4 linked regions of the Homo sapiens genome follow. The protein of the gene in region 1 binds, or shares a complex with, the protein of each later gene. Each region holds a gene or a part of one and is shown in the gene's direction. Other genes may lie near its edges. The genes, in order: FBXL17, BACH1, KEAP1 and SKP1.

Evidence for each region.
Region 2: the proteins of FBXL17 (region 1) and BACH1 are in contact, whole or in part, in a cryo-EM structure (PDB 8UAH), measured with the Homo sapiens proteins. Residues at the interface, in NP_001156787.2 of Homo sapiens: Asp395, Arg421, Asn447, Gln473, Gln498, Glu499, Met524, Arg548, Cys574, Leu575, Tyr598, Val600, Ser601, Asp623, Trp626, Met651, Arg652, Val676, Gln678, Asp679, Cys680, Arg682, Thr683, Glu685, Gln689, Trp692; in NP_001177.1 of Homo sapiens: Val20, Leu21, Ser23, Leu24, Gln27, Val32, Leu33, Asp35, Phe39, His48, Arg49, Ser50, Val51, Ala53, Ala54, Cys55, Ser56, Ser57, His60, Ser61, Arg62, Val64, Asn72, Thr74, Pro76, His116, Asn117.
Region 3: the proteins of FBXL17 (region 1) and KEAP1 are in contact, whole or in part, in a crystal structure (PDB 6W66), measured with the Homo sapiens proteins. Residues at the interface, in NP_001156787.2 of Homo sapiens: Asp395, Arg397, Arg421, Lys423, Asn447, Gln473, Tyr475, Met524, Arg548, Asn572, Cys574, Leu575, Trp577, Glu596, Tyr598, Val600, Ser601, Asp623, Trp626, Lys628, Tyr647, Met651, Arg652, Val676, Leu677, Asp679, Cys680, Thr683, Leu684, Arg686; in NP_036421.2 of Homo sapiens: His59, Thr60, Ala63, Ile66, Met67, Glu69, Leu70, Gln75, Leu76, Gln82, Lys84, Ala90, His96, Val98, Ala101, Ser102, Ser103, Ser104, Pro105, Val106, Lys108, Ala109, Met110, Thr112, Asn113, Gly114, Val122, Ser124, Glu126, Gln163.
Region 4: the proteins of FBXL17 (region 1) and SKP1 are in contact, whole or in part, in a crystal structure (PDB 6W66), measured with the Homo sapiens proteins. Residues at the interface, in NP_001156787.2 of Homo sapiens: Pro319, Asp320, Ile321, Asn322, Leu324, Pro325, Ile328, Lys331, Ile332, Phe333, Ser334, Asn335, Leu336, Leu338, Asp339, Glu340, Cys342, Leu343, Ser344, Ser346, Leu347, Val348, Cys349, Lys350, Trp352, Arg353, Gln364, Arg370, Gln371, Val373; in NP_733779.1 of Homo sapiens: Lys78 (codon at 6,718), Glu79 (codon at 6,721), Lys80 (codon at 6,724), Arg81 (codon at 6,727), Gln97 (codon at 6,775), Gly98 (codon at 6,778), Phe101 (codon at 6,787), Ile104 (codon at 6,796), Leu105 (codon at 6,799), Asn108, Leu116, Asp117, Cys120, Lys121, Val123, Ala124, Ile127, Lys128, Gly129, Lys130, Thr131, Pro132, Ile135, Arg136, Phe139, Asn140, Ile141, Lys142, Asn143, Asp144.

Annotation. Positions count from the first base shown.
Region 1 is NC_000005.10:107,857,601-107,861,975, reverse strand, and holds the end of FBXL17 (F-box/LRR-repeat protein 17), read left to right. Parts: intron 1-115; coding exon 116-256; 3' UTR 257-2,941; downstream 2,942-4,375. UniProt on the Homo sapiens protein: Substrate-recognition component of the SCF(FBXL17) E3 ubiquitin ligase complex, a key component of a quality control pathway required to ensure functional dimerization of BTB domain-containing proteins (dimerization quality control, DQC).
Region 2 is NC_000021.9:29,336,069-29,344,879, forward strand, and holds part of BACH1 (transcription regulator protein BACH1), read left to right. Parts: intron 1-6,330; coding exon 6,331-6,765; 3' UTR 6,766-8,811. UniProt on the Homo sapiens protein: Transcriptional regulator that acts as a repressor or activator, depending on the context. Binds to NF-E2 DNA binding sites. Plays important roles in coordinating transcription activation and repression by MAFK.
Region 3 is NC_000019.10:10,499,820-10,508,785, reverse strand, and holds the start of KEAP1 (kelch-like ECH-associated protein 1), read left to right. Parts: upstream 1-5,429; 5' UTR 5,430-5,545; intron 5,546-6,014; exon of another isoform or gene 6,015-6,089; intron 6,090-8,705; 5' UTR 8,706-8,752; coding exon 8,753-8,966. UniProt on the Homo sapiens protein: Substrate-specific adapter of a BCR (BTB-CUL3-RBX1) E3 ubiquitin ligase complex that regulates the response to oxidative stress by targeting NFE2L2/NRF2 for ubiquitination.
Region 4 is NC_000005.10:134,158,977-134,167,787, reverse strand, and holds part of SKP1 (S-phase kinase-associated protein 1), read left to right. Parts: intron 1-544; coding exon 545-618; intron 619-6,657; coding exon 6,658-6,801; intron 6,802-8,811. UniProt on the Homo sapiens protein: Essential component of the SCF (SKP1-CUL1-F-box protein) ubiquitin ligase complex, which mediates the ubiquitination of proteins involved in cell cycle progression, signal transduction and transcription.

The DNA of each region.
Region 1 (4,375 bases):
ACAAGGCGAGGGCTCTTCGTGTCACAGTGAGCCAGCTGCAGCACATCAGTGAGCGTGGGCAGCGGCGTGGTGTTGGTGGTCTCTGTGCGTGATGGTGACTCTTCTTTGTTTGCAGGTCAACGAAGTGACGGTGGAACAGCTGGTGCAGCAGTACCCCCACATCACCTTCAGCACCGTCCTGCAGGACTGCAAGAGGACCTTGGAGAGAGCCTATCAGATGGGCTGGACCCCCAACATGTCTGCCGCCTCCTCCTAGCGCTCCTGCCTCGCCTAGTCCACTGGGATCATTCAGCAGAGCAGAGGAGAATTGTACATTTGGGGAGCTGATCTCTCGGAAGGGTTTTAACTGTCACCTGTCTGTGTGTGTTCAAGTATGTGTATTTGTGTCTTGTTTGCATACTGCATACCAAAAGTGCAGTTGTCATTTGTTCCCAAGTGAGCTGGCTTTTTTTCTTAGAAATTAAAGATTATGAAAGCCACAAACTTTTTAGTTTTTAACTTCAAAGGCTTCTTTCTCTTTAAAAAAAAATTATTTTTAATATAGAGTCAAAAAATTGGATGTATTATTTTGAGCTTCTAATTGCTGCCACTTGGAGATGTCCAAGTAAGAAGGCCTTCTTTTTACATGGGATGAATTGTGCACTTCTACTGATGATGACTACAGCAGAAGTGATGTTATACGTACAGGCACTTACACTCTCTCACATATTCACACGTGTGCACATCTACACCAGGGCTCTGATCTACTCTAGATCGTTTCCTGACAGAGAAGCCTTCTTCCAGGCCACTAAGGTAGCATGTTATCCACTGTGGCACTGCCTAACTCCGTGTATCCTCGGGTGGCCAACTTGCTATCTGGTGGGTGACTTGGGGACTAGAAAGAATAAAGCCTTTTCTAAATTTGTTATATAGAGGCAACAGTCTGAACTCTCCTGGCCAGCTCACGAAAGTTAATTATACATTATTCTACAAATGCATTCTGTTGAGCACTAAATATTTTAGTTGGTTTTATGTTAACATTGTGTTAGCTTTTATTTCCTGGATAGTAACTGGTCAGGATATATTTTAATGATATTTGAAACTAATCTTAGCATTGAAGCCACCAATGTAATTAATGGTGTGCAGTTATTTTAAAAACTACAGATCATTTCATTATTTTCTTAATTTTGGTAATTATTAAAGTCTATTTCTGAGATACGAGAGGGTAGTCACATTAATAGAAGATTCATGAGTGAGATATAAGTAGACAATCTTTCTACTGTTGTTGCTCTTTTTGCTTTGCTTTGGGTTCTTGAACAGGTTTTTTGGATATATGCATGTTGTCATTTTGGACTAGTTCTCATGCTACTGCAAAGATCTATTGCTAGCTAATATATGAGTTAAGAAAGAAAATTAGAAAATCTGTTCATTGAAATTCTGTTTACACTTGTCAGAAATAAGCATTTCTTTGTTTAATTAAGGATTGCCAGCTTCAGTTAAGACAAGACCTATCAGTAAATGAATATATGTTTTGATTTAACACATCTTTACAATTAATTCATAATAGGGACTCAGGCTCAAATAACTGTTCCTGTGTCTAGATTTATAATGAGGACATCAGGGAGCCTTTTTAAGCTAAAGAGTGATTATCTTTCACAGTAGAACTAGAAACAAAACCCTAACTTGTGAAGTTGCTATTTATTTTTCCCTGAGTGAATATAACTGTTATTTGGTCTTTAACAGATATACTGAGGTTTGAGTTTCACTTTCTTTAAGTCTCACATTGCTAACATGACATTAGCTGTAAGAAACAAGATAGCTTTACATTTGAATGCCATTTACTGATTTCTAATGATTCTCTTTTTTTGTAAACAACTGTTTCCTTTGATTATGTCAACATGTTTCTGATGTGGCATTTTTGTTTTAATCCCAATCGGTTAGGAAAATCTAGTCAGTAAGCGCCATGAGTATTCTTCCCATAACTAAATGGGTTTCTAATTTAATTTGAAGGGAATAAAATTTGTGTAAGAAAAAAGCTGTTTAACATTAATAAACTATATTTCTTCTTACACATTGAACTGTATCATTTTCATATCCACTTCCCCACCACTGAAATATCTTATTTCACAATATTTTAACTGATTTTTAATCCAAAACTAATTTATAAGACAGTATGTATAGTAATAGTAGCTTGAGTGAATATGCAAAAGTTTAATTTTTATATATGTCATACTATATTTTAAATAGTTAAAAAAGACAAAAGAAGGGAGAGCCATCTATGATATAGATGGTACCATTTCAGTTCAAAGTTGTAATAACCTTTGGAGTGTTACAGTTTGGTTGTCAAATGGTTTCAGAATGTATAATTGATTTTTTTAAATGTTGCATTGTTTGAATCTAAAGTACAGCACTATAACATGCTTTAGCTTGGGGGGGTGGGGGTGGGGTGGGGACTTGCACTTATTCTCTAAAATGTTGACTAATCCAGAAAGCCTGATGCAACATAATCTGGAAAACTGCTTTGGTACATTTGTAGAAATCCGTAGAAATACCATATCCAGCCTCAAAGCATTAATCTCAAAAAAAAAAAAAAAAAAAAAAAAAAACAGCCAGAAAAAAGCATCACCTTGAGTGGTCCTGTGATGGTTGTTGAATGTGTTCTCATTAGATGCTTTGAAATGAGGCTTAAAATAATTTTTCTGGGCAATATAGAGTTTCTTTTTTTTGCTTAGAATGTCATAAATACATGTGAACACGTTTAATGCAGGGCTTTTTATTCTCTCCAAAATGTCAACAGTATTTTCAGAATAAAGACTATGAAATATATTGCTGTAGTGGAAAATTCTGGTCCTTTGTCTTTAATGTCTTTTTGAGTGGATAAAGAAAATTCACCCGGTTTGTAGTTTCTATATTTCCGTGAATCTTTGACCTTGCAGTGGGTTGCAATAAAAGAGAAACAAAACACTGTGTCTTTTGTTTTATTTTAGAGACAATAAATGACCTCCCCAATGCTGGTTGGGTATGATGCATGCAGTGGTCTGTGTATTTCTGTGTTTCACTACAGACTTATGTAGGTTTGACTAACCCAGAATAATAAACGAGACTGAGTTTAGGAGGTTCTAATTGGGCTGGTGATTATAGAGATAAGATTAAAATCTCAAGGATTTACATAAGTGTGTATTAGTCCATTCTCATGCTGCTAAAAGGGTATACCTGAGACTGGGTAATTTATAAAGGAAAGAGGTTTAATCGACTCACAGAAAACTTAAAATCGTGGCAGAAGGGAAAGCAAACAAGTCCTTTTTCACAAGGTGGCAGGAGAGTGAAGAATGAGAACCAAGCAAAGGGAGAAGCCCCTTGTAAAACCATCAGATATCATGAGAACTTCCTCACTATCACAAGAATGGCATGGGGGAAACCACCCCCATGATTCCATTGCCTCCCACTGGGTCCCTCCCACGACACGTGGGGATTATGGGAACTGCAGTTGAAGATGAGATTTGGATGAGGACACAGCCAAACCGTATCAAATGAGTTGTTAAAATCCCATTTCCTAAATAGTCATCATTTATATAGCCATATATTCTATTTTTCCAAAGTAAATAAATTCATAAAACATTTATTGAGTGACAAATACGTATAGGCACTGGAAATTTAAAGATAAATGAACTCACTCCCACTCTCAAGTTACTCACAGCCTAACAAGGGGACATTGTGGGGCACTAGCAATAACAGTGGAGTACAATAGATATAATGATGGGCATAATTATGGGGAGCGCATCTAGGGCCGAGCAGCAGCTTTGGGAAGGGAGAGCTCCACAGAGGAGGAGGATTTTCATGAAGGCTAGAGAAGTAGCGGGAATTTACCAGCTTTGCTTGGGGGAAGGAATGGAAGGCAACCTGGAAAATAGAAAAGTATGTGCGAAGGCATGAGGGAATGAGATAGCATGGAAAGAGCAGGGCCCTTGAGGTAACTGAGTTTAATAGGAAGGTATGTTATATAGAGGCAGCAGGTGGGAAAGGTTCCAGGAAGAAAACAAGGGCAAATCATAAACATTTTATGGCCTACTAAAGAGACTGGACTTGTGGGAAAAATCAGATCTGCTAGAAAAGCATTGTCCTAAATTATTCAAACAAGTAGAAATTTAAAATGCAGGACTTCCACTTCTAATGATATAATGGAAAGGAGATCCTGAAAGATTTTCTGCTATGTAACATCTAAAAATGTTCATTAAAATATTTTTTAAAAACCTTCTTAAGTGACCAATATACCTGCGAGAAAGCAAAAGAAAGCTCCTGTGGCCCGGGACAAAACGCGAACAGCAGTCTAGAACAGGGATCAGCAAAGAGTGGACCCTGGGTCAAACGTGGCCAGACACATATCTTTGTAATAAGG
Region 2 (8,811 bases), on another chromosome or scaffold:
TCATAGATGCTTTTTTTTCAAACGAGGATACAGTCATCGTATAATGCATTTGATTAAACCTGTTTAGTCTCTTAATCTAGAACAAGTACTCTCATTGTTTTAATGACAATAACTTTTTGAAGTATCCAGGCTGGATTTCTCATAAATGTCTTACTTTAAGTTATTTGTCTGATTGCTTCCCCATGGCTTTAAGTCATTTCTCCATCCCTTTACTTCCCGTAAACTGGAAATGTTTGAGTTGAGGAGACTGAGTTTAAACATTCACTGGTGTTGTCCTTTATATTGTGTCGCCTAGGGAGGCAGGAGGTCCAGTGTCAGTATTGTCGTACCTGGGTAGCTGGGAAGTGCCAGATTGCTCCATTTTCAAAGTAATATTTTTTCAACCTGTGTTGCTTAGTTATCTATGATGTGTTACTTGGGCACTTTATAATTATCCCGTTCCCCAATACTCCTGCATCCTTTAGAATATGTTGATGACCTTCACTGTGATTACCATGATTACAAAATCATGATTTTTCTAAATCTTTCATTCTATTTACATTATTTTAGTTGGTATTCCTGATTAAAAAGGATTGTTCTTCCTTTCTTTCTCTTTTATTTTTTTATTTTTTTTTGAAACAGAGTCTCACTCTGTTGCCTAGGCTGGAGTGTGGAGTGCAGTGGCGTGATCTCAGCTCACTGCAACCTCTACCTCCCAGGTTCATGTGATTCTCCTGCCTCAGCCTCCCGAATAGCTAGGACTACAGGTGCCCACCACCACACCTAGCTAATTTTTGTATTTTTAGAAGTGATGGGTTTTCATCGTGTTGGCCAGCCTGGTCTCGAACACCTGACTTCAAGTGATCTGCTTTCCTCAGCCTCCCAAAGTGCTGGGATTACAGACATGAGCCACCATGCCTGGCCTTTTCTTGTTTTCTCTTTTCCCTCCCTCCCACTCTTTGGAATCACAGTGGACTCATGGATTAATTTTTTCTGATTCAATTTGTTAGGATAAGTAATAGTCATTATTCTTTTTGATGTTGACATTTTTCAAATTTGGCCTGGGAGAGCCCGTTCAAGCCAGCTCCTGTCCTGTTGACATAACCATCTAGCACTTGCCATGGTCTCACTTTTTAACCTCTATTGTTTCAAGATTTGGAATCACCCATTTCTTTAAAACTCCTGGTTTCTTCTAGCAGTTATATTGGACTTTGGAAAGCCTACCTGCTGCTGGAGTATTATTCCTTCTGGGCCTTTTTCAGTGGACAGAGCTAGGAAATATATGCATCTGTGTATAAAATAAAGTTCATTATATCATGAATTCATATATATCAGGCTTCAGTAAATGAAAGTAAAAAGTACATTAGAAATCCTGAGTTTATGTAGTATTTCCAGTCCAAATTTAGCAGTATAGAGCTTTTGTCTTCACTTCTGTGTTTATGTTTAATCTCTCATCATTTACAGGAAAAATTTTGGCTCCAATTACATTAGTGTATTGTTTCCTTTATAATATACAGTAAGTTCTCACTTAACATGAAATGATGGATAATGAAACCAGTTTTTTTCCTCATCAACTTTATAATGAAAGGATGTTGTAAAAATGAGAACACTTGGACACAGGGTGGGGAACATCACACACCGGGGCCTGTCGTCGGGTGGGGGAGTGGGGAGGGATAGCATTAGGAGATATACCTAATGTGCCGGGTGCGGTGGCTCAGGAGTTCGAGGCTAGCCTGGCCAACATGGTGGTGCAAACCTGTAATCCCAGCTACTCGGGAGGCTGAGGCAGGAGAATCGCTTGAACCTGGGAGGTGGAGGTTGCGGTGAGCTGAGATCATGCCATTGCACTCCAGCCTGGGCTACAAGAGCGAAACTCCGTCTTAAAACAAAAACAAAAACAAAAACAAAAACAAAAAAAACGAGTTAATGGGTGCAGCACACTAACATGGCACATGTATACATATGTAACAAACCTGCACGTTGTGCACATGTACCCTAGAACTTAAAGTATAATATAAATAAACAATAAAATAAAAAAGAAAGGATGTGGAACAAAATGTTTATTGAGGACCTGGTGTGCGTTGTTTCTCTTAAAGTCAGTTTCCAAAAACCTGTCGATGATTTTAAGTGAGGGCACACTGTATAAAAAGTAAGAAAATTAGACAATCAGTATTACTATTAACAGTAAACAAATTGAGCAGAATTTGAGATTTATTTGCTTTTTTATGCTTAAATATTTCCCAGTGTGAAGCTTTAAAGTTATTTGAAATATTTGTGTTACCAATTTGGCATACAATTAATTTTTTTTTCTATTTATATTACTGGGATTTACTCTACATTTTTTGAGACAGGGTTTCACTCTGTCACCCAGGCTAGAGTGCAGTGGCACAGTCATGACTCACTGCAGCCTTGACTTCTTGGGATCAAGCAAATCCTCTCATATCAGCCTTCTGAGTAGCCAGGACTACAGGTGCGCACCACCATGCCCGGGTAATTTTTTTGTGAAGGTGAGGTTTCGCTGTGTTGCCCAGGCTCCTCTCAAAACTCCTGGGCTCAATCGATCCTCCTGCCTTGGCCTCCCAAAGTGCTGAGATTTTAGGCATGAGCCACCATGCCTGGCCTACATTTTTAATTTGTTTTATTTTGAATGTAAAACGTTTATATGGTTCAAACATTAAAACTATATTTTAAAAAATATATACTCCAAATCTTGATCTCATCTTCTCCTTATACCCTATTCATAGCTACTTCCTATAGGTAACCATTTTCATTAGTTTCTGGATTTTTTTTTCCCTGTGTTTCTTTTCTAAAAATGTGTTAACATTTTATGTCTACTCTTATTATCCATCCTGCTGCATGGAAGTATTTTATATACATTTTTCTGTACTTTTTAAACTTAAGAATTGATTTATAGGAAATATTTTTTCTTAGTTCAGAGAGGTTGTCATTCGTTTTCCAGCTCCATAGTACTCAGTAGTGACTGTAATACAGTTCAAACCAGTCTTCTGTGGGTGGACAGTTGGGATCCTGCAGTGAATAACTGTATACTGTTTCATGTTTAAGGAGCTGTGTCTCTAGGACACATTCCTAGAAGTGGGATTGTTGGATCAAGGGTAAATACATACATAATTTTATTAGATATTAACAGATTCCCCTCCTTAGGAATTGTCATATTTGGCCTTCCAGCAGCAGTATATGTGTGTGTGTCTGTCCACACCCTCAGTCAAGATTTGTTGTCAGCTTTTGGGTTTTTTCCAGTCTGATAGTGAGATACCATGATATCTCGTGGTAGCTTTTATTTTTATCTTATGAGTGAAAATGAGCATTTTTGCTTATATTTCTCAGTGCCATTTGCAGATTTCTCTGAACTGCCGTTCAGAGGTTTTACTTACTAAGGAACTATTAGTGACCATTTTCTAACAGTGAGTACTCTTTACCCTATCATAAAATTGTCACTTGTACTTTTGGTGCCAAATTCTTCTATATCTTTATTGGGTGAGTTATATTTATGATCTTTAAAAAAATTATATTTGAATAAATATTGTGCACTAGCTATTCAAAATAAGGATTTAGATGCAAAGGTTTTTTTTTTTTTTTTTTTTTGAGACAGAGTCTTGCTCTGTCACCCAGGCTGGAGTGCAGCGGCACAATCTCGGCTCACCGCAACCTCCGTCTCCCAGGCTCAAGTGATTCCCCTGCCTCAGCCTGCCCTTTTAGCTAGGTTTACAGGTGTGTGCCACCATGCCCAGCTAATTTTTTTGTATTTTTATTAGAGACAGGGTTTCACCATGTTGGCTAAGCTGGTCTCGAACTCCTGACCTCACATGACCCGCCCACCTCAGCCTCCCAAAGTGCTGGGATTACAGGCGTGAGCCACTGTGCCCAGCCTGTAAAGATTTTTTGTTGGTATAAAATCCAGAATGGTACCAGAATGCCAATTTTATTCCTTTTTAAGAAATAGCTCTAATTAAAGGTGCAGCACTTCAAACGTGATTTATACAGTTGTTTTTATAGGAAAATGGAAATATATTGTAGGGATAGGTAGCAGGACACTAATAGTGAGTCCCACTCATGACTGTAAGTAGTGACTTTGGGAGGTATCTTAAATACTGATGTCATTAAGTAATTAACTTGAATTACTTGTATTTTACTTTTAGTTATTAAGCTGACTGCTATTATAGTAAATATGTGTCTTAAACTTAGAGTGAAATGGAAACTGCTTAGAAGCTTAGCTGTGTAGGAGTTAAAGTGCAGGGGAACAGATGGGAACATTTAATTTATAGAAATAATTCTGGTGGAGTTCTAGGGCTGTGCCTATTTGTTTTAGTTGTTGTGAAGAAGCAAGCCATCTTGTATACTTAAAGAATGATGTCATCCCTAATTTAGTGGGGTGGGAGGAGTGAGAGTATTTAAAGATCATGTGGATATTAAGATACAGAAGTCATAAAATATTTGTAATCTTCATAGTATCTGTAGGTTAAGTAGTGGTTCTAATTTCTGGGAGGAAGCTCAAGTACTCCTTATTTTGTTGAACCATATTTAATTTAAAAGACCAACCAGCAGTTGAAAATTTTCTATTGCTGTTTAGAATAGATTCATCCCAACTTTGGTAGAGGAGTCCATGGCTGAATATTGCCATGAGTGAAGAAAGATTCTTTCTCACTTTCTTCTGGAAGCTTTGTTTTCATCCTCCTTTGGATTGGCTTCTGAGAGACCATAAAAAGAAATGGGTGTTGATTGCATTTAATGGTTCCTACTGTGAACAAGCAGTAGGTACCGTTCTTGCCCTTTCAGTATCTGCAGACTCATTTTATCAGAAGAGTGCAACTGATAAACTTTGCATAAGAGAAAATGTACTGGCCAAACATTGATTTTGCTTACATACACATACTTAACACGCACATTCTTGACCTACATCTATTTAAAAAAAAAAAAAAAAAGAACTTGTATATAAAAATCTGAACAGATTGGAGAATACTTTGCCATATAAAAATTTAGTATTTTGTATTTATTGTATATTTTCTCAAAATATTACAAGGCTTTAAAATATTTTAGAAATAACAATAATTGGATTCATACATAATTTTATAGTAATACTTTTGTATAAAACCATAACAATACTTTTGTATAAAGCAAAATTCGTTTTACCCTTTTAGTGACTTTTATGTCATAAAAGACTAAAGGATGGCACTTATAGATTAGCACTATGAACTAACTTGTCTCAAGGTTAACTGGCAGCCTCAACTCTCCAGAACCTGTCAATGAACAGAAAGCAAACAGAACAACACTGACTTGTTGAGAGTTGTGATAAATTTCATAAGAAAAACGTTTGACTTTCTAGCAAGTGTTTATTTACTCTTTTCTTATAAATACCTTGATTATTTGGTTTCCTGGCTCATAATAGATTAGAAGCAATAAGATGTTAGAACAAGAAGGATGAAATGGGATGATAATAGAAAAGACATGCTGTCAGCAGTGATAAGTGACATGGACAGGAAGGCAGGAACCAGAAAAACTTTTGAAAAATTCTGTGGTAGACTTTCTTATAGGGGTAATATCTTAAAATTATAATAATAACAAAAATGGTAATTAGCAAGCACAAAATTACCCCCCCGAATTCTTCACACTTTAGTAACTCACCCACCGGCTGTCTCTAGGCATCTTAAATTCAGTCCCATCCCTTCAGTGGGTTTGATGTTGCTTAAATCAAGAGAGGTGTTGTGTGGATTACATAGCTGAGATTGCATGTTGGAAAACATTTAGCACAATATCTGTCAGAGAATCTGCTCAACAAATGCTGGTCATTAGTTGAATCTTGCAATGCTTTGAGTCTCAGTAATTAAGTTATGCTAACTGTACTTTTACTTTTTTTCTTGTATCCCATCCAAAATGCCATCCATACCTGTTATGTACAGTCTGTAAATCCAGAAAGCTCCAAAAACCGTATGTTTGTCACAAACTCTTTTGACCGAAAAACTGCCCCAAATTGACATTAGACTACATAGTCTTTATCCTACTTTCTTCATTATTTGCTATTTTAATGTTTACCTAGAAATGTAAAGATAGTTGATAGGGAAGTGCTGCCCCAGGCCTGCTAGAGAAATTATGTGTGCACCCATACTGTCTTTCCAAAACCTGAAAAATGCTTTGTGCCAAAATACATCTGCCCCAAGAGTTTTGGGTGGGAGATTCTGGGCCTTTAGTATTTAATGTATAATTGAATGGAATTGAAAGGATAAACTCCATGTGATCTTACTTGATGAGAAGCCCCTGTATATTATTTGATCGCCTTGGAAATGTTGATTGAGCTAATAAACACAAGCCATTGTGTTCTCTTTCCCCACTTCACAGCAAAGTGAAAAGGAGAGCTTGTTGAAGGAAAGAGATCACATTTTGTCAACTCTGGGTGAGACAAAGCAGAACCTAACTGGACTTTGCCAGAAAGTTTGTAAAGAAGCAGCTCTGAGTCAAGAACAAATACAGATACTCGCCAAGTACTCAGCTGCAGATTGCCCACTTTCATTTTTAATTTCTGAAAAAGATAAAAGTACTCCTGATGGTGAACTGGCGTTACCATCAATTTTCAGTTTATCTGACCGGCCTCCAGCAGTGCTGCCTCCCTGTGCCAGAGGAAACAGTGAGCCTGGCTACGCGCGAGGGCAGGAGTCCCAGCAGATGTCCACAGCCACCTCTGAGCAAGCTGGGCCTGCGGAACAGTGTCGTCAGAGTGGTGGGATCTCAGATTTCTGTCAGCAGATGACTGATAAATGTACTACTGATGAGTAAACTTGCATTCACTTCCTTCAAACCATCTAATTTTCTCCTGAAGTTTTGGCAGCGTCTTGAAAGCCTAATATGACCATCTGTTGCTCAACAATACTGTTTTTTTCCTTTAGTAGTTTACCATAAGGGAATTTCCTTTAAGTCAACCATGATTTCTCCTTGATTTCTACAAGAGACAAAGAAATGATTTTGCCTCCTGGATATCAGAAAAATCCATGTGAAAATGTAGTAAACCTTTAAAACTCATGTTTTAAAGAATAATAACTCTAGTAATAACTCTTCCTGCTATTCAGAATAAGTAGGAGAATGAAAACTGCAGCATATCAGACAGCAATTTAACAGCTTGAAACATCTACAGATAGTTCCTACTAAAAGAAGTGGCCTGCAGAAGTTTAATAATTTGACTTTTTTCTAATATTTTAGTTTGAAAGAAAATTTCTTCCCAAGCAATGCTAATAGAGTTCTATTCTTAGAAGCAGGGTGTCAGCTACTGGGAATATTTTTGTAGAGCTGCATTGTGAAAAAAAGATGGTCTTACCTGAATCTTAGGGCTTTGTTCTTCGGCTCCTAAAATCAGGCTTTAAGCTACATTGGGAAGATTTAGTAAATAGGCAAGTGGTTGGCCTAAGACGGGGGCTGCTTCTCCTCTTCAGTATGGACTCTAGAAAGTCTGGCTACATGAATAGATTTAAGTGTCACTTTCCCTCCCTGCCCCCCGCTTCAGTCTCTACCATATCTGGTCCCATCATGGACTTCCTATTTCCTGGCATTTTTGTCCCTTTGGAAGAAGAAATAGGACTCAGAATACAGTGGCATGAGTGATTACACTGGCAGCATTATCTCAGGCTCCCTAGAATCTGGAGAGCTTACCAACATGTAAAGCTGTTCATTTTTCCACCGTGGGTCACCAATGCCAGAAAACCAGACATCACGGGGAAAGAATGTTGCTTACTTTTTACCAGGAGTGCAGTTCATTTTTTTCACCCTGTTTTTGAAGTCGTATTATTCACTTGTAAAAATGATTGTAACAGATAAAAAATGTATCTGCAGCAACTCTGCAGGTTTGTGAAATAGGATGAAACTCAATCTTTTTCTATTGTGGGTTTGCATTTGAAAAGCAGGTTGAATCCTTGCTCTCTTCTCCAAATTTGGTGTGGTATAAAGACACACAAATCATTTTAACTTGGACATTTAAAGATCAGTCTTAGTGTTTGTTCAGTCCTGTTACAAAATAGATAACTGAGCACCTATCGCATAACATTTTGCGGTGGCTTTTAGCCATGCTGGGGTTAGATGTGTTTGAGAGTCAAATGAAAGCTATGGATCTTCTCAGCAATTAAAAAAAATGCATATATTCACATTCACAGAAACATTGGCAGAACCCAGTTTTAATGGTACAGAGGAGTAGTTTATAGTGTTGATTTCACCAAAATCAGAGGGCTGAAAGAGACACTTCTATAGACTGCATCCTGAGCCTAGTGCAGGGCTTGTCTAGCTAATGTGGGCAGCCACCACCCACTGTGTATGAACAAGTCTGAAGCAAGTTGGCCTTGCCCTTGAGAGTATATGGGGACCAGTCTTCATGTCTTGGAGTAATTTGTCAAATGTTACCCTTTTTGATCAGGGTGTAGGGGGAGGATATTGCTAGTATATTTTCAGTGGTTTGTATGTTCTCTCTGTCACTGACTTATTTGTAAGAGAAAATTAGTTGGACTTGTTTATTTTCTAGTAGCTTTTATAAGTACACTCAAGAATTTGTCAGGGAGAATAATTCTGATAGTGCATCCCATACTGCAAAAGAATTTGTGTGTGTGTGTGTGTGTGTGTGTGTGTGTGTGTATGTGTATGTATACATATATATCTCTCCATATAGGTATTTCTTTGATACTTGTAATTTTAAATTTCAGCTTCACGATATAAAATAATATAAGAACTTCTGGTTTACAAAATGTAAAATCTTAAGCCAATGGAACCCTTGATTTCCTACCTCAGTGTACACCCAACTATTGGTTGTATCAGTTTGTGTATGTGCAAATGTCAAATAATCTT
Region 3 (8,966 bases), on another chromosome or scaffold:
CACAGCGCCTGGCAATACCCACACATTTTGTAATGTCTTGCTCTTAGTCAGCTTGGACTGCATAACAAATACCCTAGATGGGGTGGCTTAAGTCCCAGTAATTACTTTTGCATCGTTCTGGAGGGTAGGAAGTCCAATATCAGAATGGCAGCCTGGGGCCGGACACTGTGGCTCACGCCTGTAATCCCAGCACTTTGGGAGGCCCAGGCAGGCGGATCACCTGAGATCAGGAGTTCGAGAACAGCCTGGCCAACACGGTGAAACAGCTGTCTCTACCAAAAATACAAAAAAAAAATTAGCTAGGCGTGGTGGCAGGTGCCTGTAATCCCAGCTACTGGGGAGGCTAAGGCAGGAGAACTGCTTGAACTCAGAAGGTGGAGGTTGCAGTGAGCTGAGATCGCGACATTGCACTTCAGCCTGGATTACAGAGCGAGACTCTGTCTCGGAAAAAAAAAAAAAAAAAAAAAAAAAAAAAGGCCAGGAGCAGTGGCTCGCGCCTGTAATCTCAGCACTGAGGCCGAAGCAGGTGGATCACGAGGTCAGGAATCTGAGACCAGCATGGCCAACATGGTGAAACCCCGTTGCTACTAAAGATACAAAAAATTACCTGGGTGTGGCGGCATGCGCATGTAATCCCAGCTACTCCGGAGGCTGGGGCAGAAGAATCGCTTGAACCCAGGAGTCAGGGGTTGCAGTGAGCGGAGATCACTCCACTGCACTCCAGCCTGGGCGACAGGGCGAGACATGGTCTCAAAAAAAGAGAATGTCAGCATGGTTGTGTTCTAGTGAGGACTCTCTTCTGAGCTTGCAGACAGCCGCTTTCTCACTGTGTTCCCACATGTTGGGGAAAGAAACAGAGAGCAGGTCGGGCGAGGTAGCTCATGACTATAATCCCAACACTTTGGGAGACTGAGGCAGGTGGATCAACTGAGGCCAGGAGTTCAAGATCAGCCTGGCCAACATGGTGAAACCCCATCTCTACTAAAAATACAAAAATCAGCTGGGTGTGGTGGCACACATCTGTAACTCCAGCTACTCAGGAGGCTGAGGCAGGAGAATTGCTTGAACCTGTAAGGCGGAGGTTGTAGTGAGTGGAGATGGCACCACTGCATTCCAGCCTGTCTCAAAAAAAAAAAAAAAAAAAAAAAAGAAAAGAAAAAAGAAAGAGAGAACACTTTCTGGTGTGCTCTTCCTATAAAGACACTAATCCCATCATGAGGTTCCCACCTTCATGACCTCATCTAGACCTAATCGCTTCCCAAAGGCCCCATCTCCAAATACCATTCCATTGAGGGTTAGGGCTGCAACACACGAAAAGGGGGTACGGGTGCATAATTTGGTCCATAGCACTTCTTTTTTTGAGATGCAGTTTTGCTCTTGTTGCACAGGCTGGAGTGCAGTGGCACGATCTCAGCTCACCACAACCTCCACCTCCGGGGTTCAAGTGATTCTCCTGCCTCAGCCTCCTGAGTAGCTGGGATTACAGGTATGCGCCACTACACCTGGCTTATTTTGTATTTTTAGTAGAGACGAGGTTTCACTGTGTTGGTCAGGCTGGTCTCGAACACCTGACCTCAGGTGATCTGCCCGCCTCGGCCCCCCAAAGTGCTGGGATGACAGGCGTAAGCCACTGGGCCTGGCTCTTTTTTTACATTAAAAAAATAGAGGCCTGGTCAGGTACAGTGACTTATGCCTGTAATCTCAGCACTTTGCAGGGCTGAAGCAGGAGGATCACTTGAGCCCAGGAGTTTGAGACCAACCTGGGCAACATAGTGAGACACCATCTCTACAAAAAAGAAATAACTTAGCCAAGTGTGGTGGCATACACCTGTGGTCCCAGCTACTTGGGAGGCTGAGGCAGGAGGATGGCTTGAGCCAGGAGTTCGAGGCTGCAGTGAGCCATGATTGCACTGCTGCACGCCATCCTGGGTGACAGCAAGACCCTGTTAAAAAAAAAAAAAAAAAAAAAGAGGTGGGGCGTGGTGGCTTACACCTGTAATCCCAGAACTCTGGGAGACCAAGTAGGGAGGATCCGTCGAGCCCAGGAGTTCGAGATCAGCCTGGGCAACATGGTGAAGCCCCAGCTCTACAAAAGAAAGAAAAAAAGGGTGGGGGGAAGTTAGCTGGGTGTGGTAGTGAGTGACTGTAGTCCCAGCTACTTGGGAGGCTGGGGCAGCAGGATCACTTGATCTCAGGAGGTCAAGGCTGAAGTGAGCTATGATTGTGCCACCGCACTCCAGCCTGGGTGACAGAGCAAGACCTTGTCTCAAAAAAAGAAAAATAAATAAATAAAATAAAAAAAGAGTCTGGGTGCAGTGGCTCACGTCGGTAATCCCAGCACTTTGGGAAGACGAGGCGGGAGGATCACGAGGTCAGGAGTTCAAGACCAGCCTGACCAACATGATGAAACGCTGTCTGTACTAAAAATACAAAAAATTAGCTGGGTATGGTGGCAGGCACCTGTAATCCTAGCTACTTGGGAGGCTGAGGTAGAAGAATCGCTTGAACCCGGGATGCAGAGGTTGCAGCAAGCCAAGATCACACCACTGCACACCAACCCGGGTGACAGTGCGAGACTCCGTCTCAAAAATAAATAAATAAATAAATAAATAAATAAATGAAAATCGAAAAAGAAAAAGAGAAAAGAAAAAATAGAAGATCTAGGTACATATCCATACAGTAAATGTACTGCTCCTTTTAACTGGCTGCATAGTATTTCTTAGCAAGGATGTGCCACCACTGATTAAGCCAGGGCTCTACAGAGGGACATGTGAATGGGATCCAGTCCTTTTGCCATGATATGCATTATAATGCAATGAATGTGTGCACATGCTTCCTCCTGTATGTGTGCGAGTGCACCTTGGATAAATCTCTACAAGCACCTGGCTCACTGGACCTGTAGGTTTGATTTTGAGAGATATTAGAGAGGTTGTTTTCTGCAACGTGCCAGGAAGGCGCTGGTTACAACCTCGGCCACTCAGCGTGTTCACGGACTATCTAGGCCGCCCCCCTGAGGAGCTGTCTGGAACTGCATCTACACGCAACAAGGATTTGGGGTAGCGGGGTAACTCCAACGTAGCCCTACACGTGATTCCTTCCAGACCCTGAGCCAGGACGTTCAATCTTTCAAATTCACCCTGGAGGCTCCAGGGGCCTAGAGTTTCCATTTATTATTCACTTACATGGCGAAATCCCATCTATCTTTTTTTTTTTTCTTTTCCTTTCGAGACGTAGTCTCGCGCTGTTGCTCAGGCTGGAGTGCAATGGCAGGATTTCGGCTCACTGCAACCTTCACTTACCCACCACCACACCCGGTTAATTTTTTGTATTTAGTAGAGACGGCGGTCTCACCATATTGGTCAGGCCGGTCTCGAACTCCTAACCTCAGGTGATCCACCCGTCTTGGCCTACCAAAGTGCTAGGATTACAAGCATGAGCCACTGCGCCTGGCCTCTCTATCTTTTAAAAATAATTATAATTTGGATGAAATTTAGATGAATTCTTTTTTTTTCTTTTTTTTTTTTTTTTTTTGAGACAGAGTCTCACTCTGTTGCACAGGCTGGAGTGTGGTGGCGCGATCTCTGCTCACTGCAACCTCTGCCTCCCGGGTTCAAGCAATTCTCTGCCTCAGCCTCCCGAGTAGCTGGGGATTACAGGCGCCCGCCACCACGCCCGGTTAATTTTTGTATTTTTAGTAGAGATGGGGGTTTCACCATGTTGGCCAGGCTGGTCTTGAACTCCTGATCTCGTGATCCACCCACCTCGGCTCCCAAAGTGCTGGGATTACAGATGTGAGCCACCGCACCCAGCCTAGATGAATTCTTTAAAATAAACTTACATACATTTATTTAAAAGTTAACGTTACATGATAAACGGTGTGCATGACAAATCAGTATCCCCAGTCATGAAAAATAGCAATGGTTTCTGTCTCTTGGGAGCCAGCATTCGCATTTAATATTTTTATTTTTTATTTACTTATTTATTTTTTTGAGTCAGAGCCTCGCTCTGTGGCGCAGGCTGGAGTGCAGTGCGGTGATCTTGGCTCACTGCACGCTCCGCCTCCCGGGTTCACGCCATTCTCCTGCCTCAGCCTCCTGTGTACCTGGGACTACAGGCGCCCGCCACCACGCCCGGCTAATTTTTTGTATTTTTAGTAGAGACGGGGTTTTATCATGTTAGCCAGGATGGTCTCGATCTCCCGACCTCGTGATCCGCCTGCCTCGGCCTCCCAAAATGCTGGGATTACAGGTGTGAGTCACCGCGCCCGGCCCCGCATTTAGTCTTAATGATAATCTGGTAGGTAGGTGCTATTATATTATTACTTTTTATAGAGAGGAAACTGAACCATAGAGAACTAAGTAAGCGCCCACGGGCACTGAGCTGGTAAGAGGCAGATCCAGGGTTTGAACCCCCCAAAGACGGGTGCCACACGCCTCTTGATAGGAAGTAAATCAAAAATAAAGACAAGGAAGGCCGGGCGCGGTGGCTCACGCCTGTAATCCCAACACTTTGGGAGGCCGAGGCGGGCGGATCATGAGGTCAGGGGTTTGAGACCATCCTGGCCAACATGGTGAAACCCCATCTGTACTAAAAATACAAAAAATTAGCTGGGTATGATGGCGGGCGCCTGTAATCCCAGCTACTCGGGAGGCTGAGGCAGAATTTTTTGAACCCGGGAGGCGGAGGTTGCAGTGAGCCAAGATCGAGCTACTGCACTCCAGCCCAGGTGACAGTGAGAGACTCTGTCTCAATTAAAAAAAAAAAAAAAAAAAAAAGACAAGGAAAACCTGAGGCCTGGGCACAGCGCCTCACACCTATAATCCCAGAACTTTGGGAGGCCAATGGAGTCAGGATCTCTTAAACCCAGGTGTTCAAGACCAGCCTGGGCAACATTGCGAGACCCCATCTCTACAGAAAAACAAACAAACAAACAAAAACTAAAAATTAGCCGGGTGTGGTGGCGCCTGTCTGTGGTCCCAGCTACTCAGGAGGCTGAGGTGGGAGGATCGCTTGAGGCCAGGAGCTCAAGGCTGCAGTGAGCCGCGATTGCGCCACTGCACTCCAGCCTGGGCGTGCAGATCAGAGCGAGACCTTGTCTCTAAAGGAAAAAAAAAAAGAAAGAAAGAAAGAAAAGAAAAGAAAAGAAAACCTAGCGAGGTAGATAATTTTCCCTAGATCCTGCGGCCGCCGGACCACGAGGCCGGCGCTGTGCGTTGTTAAAAGGAGAATAGCAGATGGTGGCGCGCAGCCCCGCGAGGAGACATCCAGCAACGAAATCGGGAGATGGAAGGGACAGTGAGAAGGGGGGCCTGGCTGTGCGCCCCCGCCCGATGCCCCACTCCTCGCCGACGGGCGCCGGGCACCTGCGGGAAGGGCGGGAGAATCGCCGCTCCTTTCCCGCCGCGCCCTTTCCGCCCTCTCCCCGCCTCCTTTTCGGGCGTCCCGAGGCCGCTCCCCAACCGACAACCAAGACCCCGCAGGCCACGCAGCCCTGGAGCCGAGGCCCCCCGACGGCGGAGGCGCCCGCGGGTCCCCTACAGCCAAGGTAAGGCAGGAATCTCCTGGACTGGGTCGCGGTCCCCCGGCTTCCCGGAAGCGCAGTGCGCGGGTGGCATCACTGTGCCCGGAGCCCCTGCGCGCCCCGGCCATCCCCACCCCGAGGGACCCCCTACGGAGGCGACCTGGGGGCTGAGGTGAGCGCTTGGGCAGCAGCGACGGGGAGGGGTGTCCACCCCACCCCTGGTGCGGGCCGGGGCGCGCAGGCCTGGAACTCGGGGTTCAGACTCCCCGCGACTCGGACCACGCGGCTAAGCGCGCTCAGGGTCGCGTGCCCCCGCCCCGCCGCCATGCTGGGCGCCGTGGTGGCCGCGCAGCTGGGCGACAGCAGGCGTGGGCGGGGGTGGGGAGCGGCCCCTCAGCGGTCCCTACCGCCTGAGGCCAGGGCCCGGGGACTTTTATTGTGACACGGCGGGCGCCCGGCTCTGCTTAGTCATGGTGACCTGCGCGCGCTCCGCGCCTCCCCCACGCGCAGCGATGGAGGCGCCGGGGCTCGGGCGGTGGAGGCGGAGCCGGAGCGCGGCCATGGCGGGGTGAGTGAGGCGGGATGTGCCCGGGCTGCGGGCATCGCGGGCCGCGAGCGCCCCTGCGGCCGTGCCCGGAGACCAGGAAAACGGGCGCCACGGCCCAGGGCGCCTCCGAGTTCCCCGCCAGGACTCGGAGGGCCAGGAGGGCGCGACCTGGGTGGATATTTTTGTTGGACGGCGCAACTCTTGGGGTGGCCCGGGAGCGGCGGAAACCGAGCGAGAGAACCAGGAGGCGCTGCGCAGAAGGAGGCCCGGGGGCTCCGAGGCGTTGAGGGGCTCGATCTGCGTTCTGGGGTTGGCAGCCGAGAGGCCGCGGTGGGGTCACTTCCTCGCCTCACTGGGCCTGGTGGAGGCTCAGGAGGGGCATGCGCAGTCGCCCACTTGCCGCTTTGTAGGGTGGGGGAAGTGCCCGGTGCCCAAGGGGCATTGTTGACCGATTGGCCAAAGACCAAGAGGCAAACCCAGGGCCTTGGCACCAGAGTGGGGGCCGAGTGGCACCCAGGGAGGGTGGAGGAGGCCGCTCTGGCAGGCACGGTGGCAGGGCAGTTAGCCAACCACCCGTTTATTGACCCCTGCGCAGTGCCAGGCCCCAGGCGAGAGGCACAGGAGAGGGTTGGCCCGACGCCGACCTACATAGGTCTCCCTGCCATTTGAGGCGCTGGGGCCGGGGACGAGAGACAGTCGATCAACAGACAAGCAAAGGAGGTCATTTCAGTTCCTGACAAGCGCAGTGATGACAATAAAACAGGGAAGAGGAGACTTTGAGTTGAGTCCCAGAAAGAGGGGAGTGAGAACTTGCAGATCCACTTGTGGGGAGCCACTTGGAGATCCCCCACTCCTTTTGAAACGTAACTCACGTCTGGGCACAGCAGCCTATGCCTGTAATCCCAGCATTTTGGGAGGTCGAGGAGGGGGATCACTTGAGGCCAGGAGGTTGAGACCACCCTGGCCAACATGGTGAAATCCCATCTCTACTAAAAATACAAAAAATTAGCCCATCGTGGTGGCTGGTGCCTGTAATCCCAGCTACTCAGGAGGCCGAAGTATGAGAATATCTTTTTTTTGTTTTATTTGAGATGGAGTCTTGTTCTGTCACCCAGGCTGGAATGCAGTGGTGCGATCTCGGCTCACTGCAAGCTCTGCTTCCTGGGTTCACGCCTTTCTCCCGCCTCAGCCTCCCATGTAGCTGGGACTACAGGCGCCCGCCGCCACACCCGGCTAATTTTTTTGTATTTTTAGTAGAGATGGGGTTTCACCATGTTAGCCAGGATGGTCTCGATCTTCTGACCTTGTGATCCGCCTGCCTCGGCCTCCCAAAGTGCTGGGATTACAGGCGTGAGCCACCACGCCCGGTCGAGAATATCTTGAACTCGGGAGGCAGAGGTTGCAGTGAGCCAAGATCGCACCACTGTACTCCAGCCTGGGCAACAGAGCGAGACTCTGTCTCGAAAAACAAAACACAAAACACATAACTCATCTCCTGGCCCTCCAGGATCCAGGGGTTTCCATGAAACCCTTCCTTAAGTCCTTAGCTCTCACTGCACTCCTTCCCAATTCTCCAGATTGACTGTCTCAGCCTCTGAGCCACTGCACTTACTGTTTCCTCTGCCTGGAAAACTACTCCCCAGCCTCCCACTTTATAATAATTTTCATCCTTGTCTCAGCTCCAACCTCACCTTCTCAAAGAGGCTTGGTCTGCCAGATTTTAAAAAACTGCACCCCGGGTCAGGCATGGTGGCTTACGCCTGTAATCCCAGCACTTCGGGATGCCAAGGCGGGCGGCTCACTTGAGGTCAGGAGTTTGAGACCAGCCTGGCCAACATGGCGAAACCCAGTCTCTGCTAAAAATACAAAAACTAGCCGGGTGTGGTGGCGGACGCCTGTAGTCCCAGCTACTCGGGAGGCTGAGGCAGGAGGATCGCTTGAACCCGGGAGGCGGAGGTTGCAGTGAGCCAAGATCGAGCCATTGCACTCCAGCCTGGGTGACAGAGAGACTCCATCTGAAAAAAAAAAAAAAAAAAGCAAACAAACTGCACCCGATTCTCACGTTGTCACAATGCTGTTGTAATTTTCTTCATGAAGCTGTTTTTCCAGGTCTTGCTTATTTTAGTTTATGATTGCTCCTCCCTGCAGTTGTCAGCTCTGGCAGGGTAGGATTTTTGTATTTTGCTCACTGCTGTGTCTTCAGCACCCAGATCAGTGCCTGGCATACAGTAGGTGCCCAGTAAATGGTGAGGCAAATGAAGGAATGAGCTCAACATGCTCTAGAAAGGGAAAGGCCGCCAGATTGCTGAAGCAGAGTGATCAAAGGGAAGAGGTGGCAGGGGCTAATTGCGTAGGGCTTTGCAGGCTGTTGAGGAGTTCAGTTTTACTAGGTACTGTGGGAGGCATTGGAGGATCCAGAGCAGGGGAGAGACATGACTTCATGTATGTTTTAAGATGGGCTCTTGGGCCAATCAGGTTGATCAGGTCGGGGAAGTTTGCAAGTTTGCAAATGGATTCTGCTTCACCTACTTTGCAGGAAAACTGACCTAGGAATTGCTTTATCTTGCAAAACGAGGCCCGGCAGGTGCTGGCCCAGTCCCAACCCCTGCCCTCTGCCCTGTGCTCTCTCCCCTCCAGGTCCCTGAGTGCCAGAGGTGGTGGTGTTGCTTATCTTCTGGAACCCCATGCAGCCAGATCCCAGGCCTAGCGGGGCTGGGGCCTGCTGCCGATTCCTGCCCCTGCAGTCACAGTGCCCTGAGGGGGCAGGGGACGCGGTGATGTACGCCTCCACTGAGTGCAAGGCGGAGGTGACGCCCTCCCAGCATGGCAACCGCACCTTCAGCTACACCCTGGAGGATCATACCAAGCAGGCCTTTGGCATCATGAACGAGCTGCGGC
Region 4 (8,811 bases), about 26 Mb from region 1:
CTTTGGGAGGCTGAAGCGGGTAGATCACGAGGTCAGGAGATCGAGACCATCCTGGCTAACACGGTGAAACCCCGTCTCTCCTAAAAAATACAAAAAATTAGCCGGGCGTGGTGGCGGGTGCCTATAGTCCCAGCTACTCGGGGAGGCTGAGGCAGGAGAATGGTGTGAACCCGGGAGGCGGAGCTTGCAGTGAGCCGAGATGGCGCCCCTACACTCTAGCCTGGGCGACAGAGCAAGAATCTGTCTCAAAAAAAAAAAACCCCTCTCTAGATTACTTACAATGCCGGATACAATGTAAATGCTATGCAAATAGTTTTTATACTGTATTGTTTAGGGAGTAATGACCAGGAAACAAGTCTACATGTTTAGTGCAAGACACAGCCATCCATTTTTTTTCCCAATATGTTTAATCTGTGGTTGGTTGAATCCACAGATGTAGAACTCATGGATATGGGGGCTGACTCTTATGTTTTGAGACATAGCCTGGTTGGTATAAGTATTATAATGGAATTAGGAAATAGAAACTTTCTTCTGGTTTTCTTAGATTTGGGAATGGATGATGAAGGAGATGATGACCCAGTTCCTCTACCAAATGTGAATGCAGCAATATTAAAAAAGGTAAGGTCTTTAAAGAGTTTAAGTTTATTCTGCTTAATATATAACACCAATTGATTAATACAAGTAATTCAACAATCTATGTTAGAATTTTATAATTTACTGCTTAAAATTACATTTAAATTTGAATGTTCTTAAACACTTACTTGAGTGATGTTTGTATGTTCTTAAAATATACAGAAAAAAGTTCTGTCTGCTTTCTTGCCACAGTTGACTATTGTCATTTATTGGGCATCTGTACTGTGTCTACCTATGCAAACACTTCCCTAGGAAGGATGATCTACATGTAGAATATCTGGATCGCAGGTTGGCTTATATACCTAAATTTTGATAGATACTGTTAAATAGTCTTCTGTAAAGATACCACTTCTAGAGCATGGTGGAATTGAATCGTGACTGTCTTTCTTAGATTTATAATTTTGAAACGGCTAAAGTCAAAGGAATATGTAACACTTTGTTCCCATTTCTGTCCTTATCTATTCCAGTCCCCTTTCAGGTAGCAATTTATCCTTTCAGTATTTTGTAATACAGGTATTAACAAGTAAGTATATTTTTTTCCCACATTCTTTTTTTTTTTTTTTTTTTTTTTTTTGAGACCAGAGTCTTGCTCTGTCGCCAGGTTGGAGGGTAGTGGTATGATCTCGGCTCACTGCAACCTCTGCCTCCTGGGTTCAGGTGATTCTCCTGCCTCAGCCTCCTGAGTAGCTGGGACTACAGGCACACGCCACCATGCCCAGCTAATTTTTGTATTTTTAGTAGAGACAGGGTTTCACCATGTTGGCCAGGATGGTTTTGATCTCTTGACCTCATGATCTGCCCACCTCAGCCTCGCAAAGTGCTGGGATCACAGGTGTGAGCCACCGCGCCCAGCATTCTCCCCCATTCTTAAGGTAGCAAACTATACATTTCTATGTTTTTTTTTTTCCATATAACAAAATGAAAGGTGATATGTCTATGTTAGTTAATATATAGCATCTTTTTTTTTTTTGAGATGGAGCCTCGCCCTGTTGCCCAGGCTGGAGTGCAGTGGTGTGATCTCAGCTCACTGCAGCCTCTGCCTTCCGGGTTCAAGTAATTTTCCCTGCCTCAGCCTCCCGAATAGCTAGGATTACAGATGCCCACCACCACACTGGCTAATTTTTATATTAGACAGGTTTTCACCATGTTGGCCAGGCTGGTCTCCAACTCCTGACCTCAGACGATCTCCCTGCCTTGGCCTCCCAAAGTGCTGGGATTACAGGTGGAGCCACCATGCCTGGCTAACCTGAATTTTTTTGTGTTTGTTTGTTTTTTTGATCTCACTCTGTTGCCCAGGCTGGAGAGCAGTGGCACAATCTCGGCTCACTGCAGCCTCCACTTTCCAGGTTCAAGCAATTCTCCTGCCTCAGCCTCCCAAGTAGCTGGGATTACAGGCACTCGCCACCACGCCTGGCTAATTTTTGTATTTTTTAGTAGAGATGGGGTTTCACCATGTTGGTCAGGCTGGTCTTGAATTCCTGACCTTGTGATCTGCCCACCTTGGCCTCCCAAAGTGCTGGGATTACAGGCATGAGCCACCGAGCCTGGCATTTTTTTTTTTTTTTTTTTGAGACAGACACTCTGTCGCCCAGGCTGGAGTGCAGTGGCACGATCTCAGCTCACTGCAACCTCTGCCTCTTGGGTTCAAGTGATTCTCCCGCCTCATCCTCTCGAGTAGCTGGGATTACAGACACCCGCTACCATGCCCAGCTAATTTTTTTATTTTTGTAGAGATGAGGGTTTCACCATGTTGGCCAGGCTGGTCTTGAACTCCTCACCTCAGGCGATCTGCCTGCTTTGGCCTCCCAAAGTGTGAATGTTTTTACATGTGTTACTGGCCATTTACATTTTCTGCATTGTCTGTTTTCATTTCTCTGTTTTCCTAATGGTCTTAGAAAAATAGTGATAAAATATACATAACATTGATCATTTTCACTTTTTGAACGTGCACCATTCAGTGACATTAATTACATTCACAGTGTTGTGCAGCTATCACCACTAAGCATTTTCAGAACTTTATCATCCCACACTGAAACTCTGTACCCATTAAACTGTAACTTCCAATTTCGGTACACCCTCCCCCCTCAAAAAAAAAATTGGTACACCCTCCCCCCTCAAAAAAAAAAATTACGCTAGGTAAACACTATTCTACTTTCTGTATCTGAATTTAGCTATCCTGGATACATAATATATGGAATCATACAATATTAGTCCTTTTGTATCTGGCTTATTTCACTTAGCATAATGTTTTCAAGGTTCATCCATGTTGTTGTCTAATGAGCTTAAAAAATTGTGGTAAAATACACATAACAAAATTTACCACCTTAACCATTTTTAAGTGACAATTCAGTGGTATTATCTAATAGGCTTTTTATAAGAACTCTTTAAAAGTTTCTACCAGTTTGCTTGTCTTACGTTAATTCATGTTACGATTTAGAGGCTTTATTTTATCTAGTTAGATCTCATTCTTTATGACTTCTGAATATGTCTTGCAATTAACGTATTCTATTTTATACTAATGAAAAATGTTTCTAAAAGGATCTTTGCTTGTAGTCGAATGCCTGGTACATTCAAATGCCATCCAAAAGCTGGGGGTATAGCAGTGAACCAAAGAGACAAAATCTCTGCCCTTATGGAGTTTATGGTCTGAAGGGGTGGGGAATATGCAACATTAGAAATACATCAAATGGAAAAACTATGGAGAATAAAGAAGGGAATGGGGAATTTAAAGGGGTGAGTAGGTGAACAGTTAGCTGTTTTTAAAATAAAGATGGTCAGGAGATGTCTTACTGAGAAGATAATCTTTTTTTTTTTTTTTTTTTTTTTTTTTTTCTTGAGATGGAGTTTTGCTCTTGTTGCCCAGGCTGGAGTACAGTGGCACAACTTTGGCTCACTGCAGCCTCTGCCTCCGGGCTTTAAGCAGTTCTCCTGCTTCAGCCTCAGTAGCTGGGATTACAGGCGCGCGCCACCACGCCCGGCTAATTTTTTGTATTTTGAGTAGAGATGGGGTTTCACCATGTTGGCCAGGCTGGTCTCGAACTCCGGACCTCAGGTGATCCGCCTGCCTCAGTCTCTCAAAGTGCTGGGATTACAGGCTTGAGTCACCATCCCTGGCCGAAGATAATCTTTTAAACAAAGACGTGAATATTTGGGGGAAAAGAATTCTGGGATTTGGGAGCAAGTACAGTGACCTTAAGACAAGAGCATGCCCTGCCTTTTTAGGAAAGGCAAGGAGTTTAGTGGAAGCTAGAGCAAGAAGTGAGTAGATAAGGTCAGAGTTAAAGGGTTGGGTGATGTAGGGCCACTTCTGAGAATGAGAAGTGCTTGGTTTTTGGGGTTTTTTTGTTTGTTTGGTTTGTTTGTTTGAGATAGGGCCTCACTGTGTTGCCTGGGCTGGAGTGCAGTGGTGCAGTCATGGGTCACTGCACCTTCTACCTCCCGGGTTCAGGTGATCTTCTCACCTCAGCCTCCCGAGTAGCTGGGAGTACAAGCACATGCCACCACACTTGGCAAATTTTTGTATTTTTTGTAGAGATGGAGTTTCACCATGTTGCCGAGGCTAGTCCGGAACTCCTGGGCTCAAGCGATCTGTCTCCTTTGGCCTCCCAGAGTGCTGGGATTATAGGTGTGGGCCACCACACCCAGCCGAGAAGTTTTTTTTTTTTTTAAGCCTGTTTGTATTGAATATATATCATATTTTGAAGAATAATTACATGATGCCAAAACTATGGAAGTACAATAAAATCTCCTTTCCCTGTCTCTTATCTGATTGGAAACTGCTCCCCCCACAAAGTAATGTGGCATTTTTTTGTTTTTCTTTTTTACTGGCACCACCCGTTGTGAACCTAGGCATTAGTTTCTTTATATATCCTTTTAAGAGTTTTTTATTTTTAAATTTTTATTTTTTGTTAGTAGTGATAGTGATTTTTTTTTTTTTTTTTTGACAGAATCGCACTCTCTTGCTCAGGCTGGAGTGCAGTGGCACGATCATGGCTCACTACAGCCTCAGCCTCCTGGGCTCAAGTGATTCTCTTGCCTCAGCCTTCTGAGTAGCTGGGACCATAGGTGTGCACCACCAGTCCCATCTCATTTTTGTATTTTTCATAGAGACAGGGTTTCACCATGTTACCCAGGCTGGTCTCAAACTTCTGGGCTCAAGTAAGTCACCCACCTTGGCCTCCCAAAGTGCTAGGATTACAGGTGTGAGCCACAGTGCCCAGCCTATTATTATTATCATCATTTTTTGTAGAGACGGGGTGTCTCTATATTGCCCAGGCTATTCTTGAACTTCCGGCCTTAAGCAGTCCTGCCTCAGCCTCCCAAAGTGCTGAGATTACAAGTATGAACCACTGTGCCCAGGTTTAGAGTTTAAAAAATGCCTGGATAAGCAAATATTGACGTTTTTAAATTTTCTTATATAGTTGGAATACTTCCTAAAAAGCTATTATTTATTTCATTAAAAACCCTTAGCTGGGTGCAGTGGCTCACGCCTGTAATCCCAGCACTTTGGGAAGCCAAGGGGGGTGGATCATCTGAGGTCAGGAGTTCGAGACCAGCCTGGCCAACTAAAAATAAAAAAAAATTAGCTGGGTGTTGTGGCAGGCACCTATAATCCCAGCTACTCAGGAGGCTGAGGCAGGAGAATCGCTTGAACCCAGGAGGTGGAGGTTGCAGTGAGCCAAGATAGCGCCATTGCACTCCAGCCTGGGCAACAAGAGTGAAACTCAGTCTCAAAATTAAAACGAAAACAAAAACCTTTCGCTGGCCAGGCACAGTGGCTCATAGCTGTAATCCCAACACTTTGGGAGGGCAAGGTGGGTGAATTGCTTGAGTTCAGGAGTTTGCAACATGATGAAACCTTATCTCTACAAAAACAAAATACAAAAATGAGCCAGGTGTGGTGGCATGCACCTGTAGTTGCAGCTACTTGGGAGGCTGAGGTGGGAGGATCGCTTAAGCACAGGAGGTCGAGTGAGCCATGATCGCGGCACTGCATTCCAGCCTGGGTGACACAGTGAGATCTTGTCTCAAAAACAAACAAACAACCCTTTGCTTGGCTTTTCCTTATTGAAATTGTTCTTTCTTTTTTTTTTTTTGGATCCTGGCAATGTTTCTTGGCTCTGCCATTTTCTCTCAGCATTGTTTACTCCTCCAACATTTTGCTATGAAAAAGTTTTAGCCATACAGAAAAATGGAAAGAATTACACAGTAGACAACCATGTAGCCACTGCCTAGATTCTACAACTGAAAACACTTTCAGTATTGATTTTGGTCTTTATGCTGGTATGTATAGTCTAAGTAATCAGCTTCCTGAAACTTTATGGAGTAATTATTCTCCTATTAAGGAAATTTTGGGGCTTTTCCTGCTTTGTTCCTACACCAAATAGTCTCACACATGTGTCTAGGGTATTTGGAATTTGCTGGTTACAATATATGTACATATTCAGCTTTTCTGAGGAGTGCTGGATTAGCTTTCAAAGGGGTTATACCAATTTATACTCTCTAGAAGAGTTTGTGTTTCCTTTCCACTATTGCCCAACAATTAGTATCAGTTTCTTGATTTTTTTTCAATCTAGAGAAGTATCTGTAGTGTTAGTTTTGCTTCTAGTAAAGTTGAGCGTTCCTTATGTTTGGCTATTCAGATTTCATTTATTGGCTGTACATATTAACCCATTTCTCTTTAATGATTTTTGAAAGATTTTATATTCTCTCAGCTAATCATTGTTGTACATATTGCAGGTATCTTCCAGTCATTGTCCTAACTTTTCTTTTTGCATAGAAGCTTTTTAATGTAGTCAAGTACAGTACTCTGTCTGCATGGCTTGCTTTTATCTAATAAGATCTTCTCCCTTCTAGGGTTATAATGATTCTTCAAGCTTCATTTTTGTTTTTCAAGCTTGGCTGTTAATGGCTCAAGTCAACCTCTAGCTAGTTATTATTCCAATATAGGGATAAGTTGTCCCAGCAGTGGAATGAGTACCTTGTGACAAAGTGCCACAGAGGAATGAACTTTTGTTGTTGTAGGTCATTCAGTGGTGCACCCACCACAAGGATGACCCTCCTCCTCCTGAAGATGATGAGAACAAAGAAAAGCGAACAGATGATATCCCTGTTTGGGACCAAGAATTCCTGAAAGTTGACCAAGGAACACTTTTTGAACTCATTCTGGTAAGTTTTTAATGTGTAAGATAGCTCTACTCTAGAGCCTTTAAACACTTCTTATAGATTTAAATTTGCTAACTTCATTGACACTGAATTTTAATACTCTCTAAATTCAAATGTAACGCCATATTTAAATCCACATATCAGTAACACACTAAATGTAAATGGTCTAAACACAGTTAAAAGGCAGAAATTACCAGATCAGAAAAGCAAGCTTAGCTGTGCTGTCTGTAAGAAACCCGCTTTAAATATATAGACAGAACTAGGTTTAAAGAATGGAAGAAGATACGGTACACTAACACGAATCAAAAGAAAGCTGGAGTGACTATATTAAAATAGGTTTGGAGGCAAAGAATATTACCAGGGTTAAAGAGGATTATTTCATACTGATAAGGGGATCAGTTTTTTAAAAAGACATAACAATTATAAATTTTTATCTGGCTAGAAGCAGAACTTCCAAGAAGTGAAACAAAACCCAATAGAACTCAAAGAAGTCCACAAAGTGACAATCATAGAGATTTCAGCACCTCTCTCAATTAATATAACTAGACAGAAATCAGGATAACTTGATATAACACTATTGACCAAATTGTCTTAATGGATATTTATAAAATATTATATATATATATATTTTTGAGACAGAGTTTCACTCTTGTCACACAGGCTGTGGTGCAGTGGCATGATTTTGGCTCACTGCAACCTCCACCTCCCAGGTTCAAGCAATTCTCCTGCCTCAGCCTCCTGAGTAGCTGAGATTACAGGCATGAGCCACCATGCTCAGCTAAGTTTTTGTATTTTTAGTAGAGATGGGGTTTCACCATGTTGGCCAGGATGGTCTTGAACTCCTGACCTCAGGTGATCCACCTACCTAGGCCTCCCAAAGTGTTGGGATTACAGGTGTGAGCCACCGCGCCTGGCCTAAAACATTATATGTAATGATAGCAGAATACATATTCTTTTCAAGTGTATATTACCAAATAGACCATGTTCTGGGCCATAAAACAAGTCTCAGCTGGGTGCGGTGGCTCACGCCTGTGATCCCAACACTTTGGGAGGGTGAGGCGGGTGGATCACTTGAGGCTAGGAGTTCAAGACCAGCCTGGCCAGCATGATGAAACCCCATCTCTACTAAAAATACGAAAATTAGGCCGGGCGCGGTGGCTCACGCCTATAATCCCAGCACTTTGGGAGGCCAAGGTGGGCGGATCACGAGGTCAGGAAATCGAGACCATCCTGGCTAACATGGTGAAACCCCGTCTCTACTGAAAATATAGAAAATTAGCCGGGTGGGGTGGCAGGAACCTGTAGTCTCAGCTACTCGGGAGGCCGAGGCAGGAGAATGGCATGAACCCGGGAGGTGGAGCTTGCAGTGAGCCGATATCGCACCACTGCCCTCCAGCCTGGGTGACAGAGCGAGACTTCGTCTCAAAAAAAAAAAAAAAAAATTAGCTGGGTGAGATGGCACCCACCTGTAATCCCAGCTACTTGGGAGACTGAAGCAAGAGAATTGGCTGAACCTAGGAGGTAGAGATTGCAGTGAGCCGAGATCACGCCACTGAATTCCAGCCTGGGTGACAGAGTGAGACGGTGTCTTAAAAAAAAAGTCTCCATTGTAAAAGGATTCAGGTCATACAAAGTATGTCTTCTGACTGCAATGGAATTAGAAATCACAAACAGAAAGGTATCTGGAAAAATCTGCAACTACTTTTAAACTAACACATTTGCAAGTAACCTATGGGTCAGAGAAGAAATAGAAAGTATTTTGAGCTGAGTGGAAGTAAAACACATGAAAAATCGGTGAGATGCAGCTAAAGAAGTACTTAGAGGGAAATTGATGGAATGAAATACCTATATTATTAGAAAAGAAGAAAAGTTTCAAATCGGTGATCTAAGCTTCCACCTTAAACTAGTAAAAGATGAAATTAACTACAAAGTAAACAGAAGAATGAGAATATTAAAGGGCAGAAATCAATGAAATAGAAAACAGGTAAACAATAAAGTCAATGAAACCAAAAC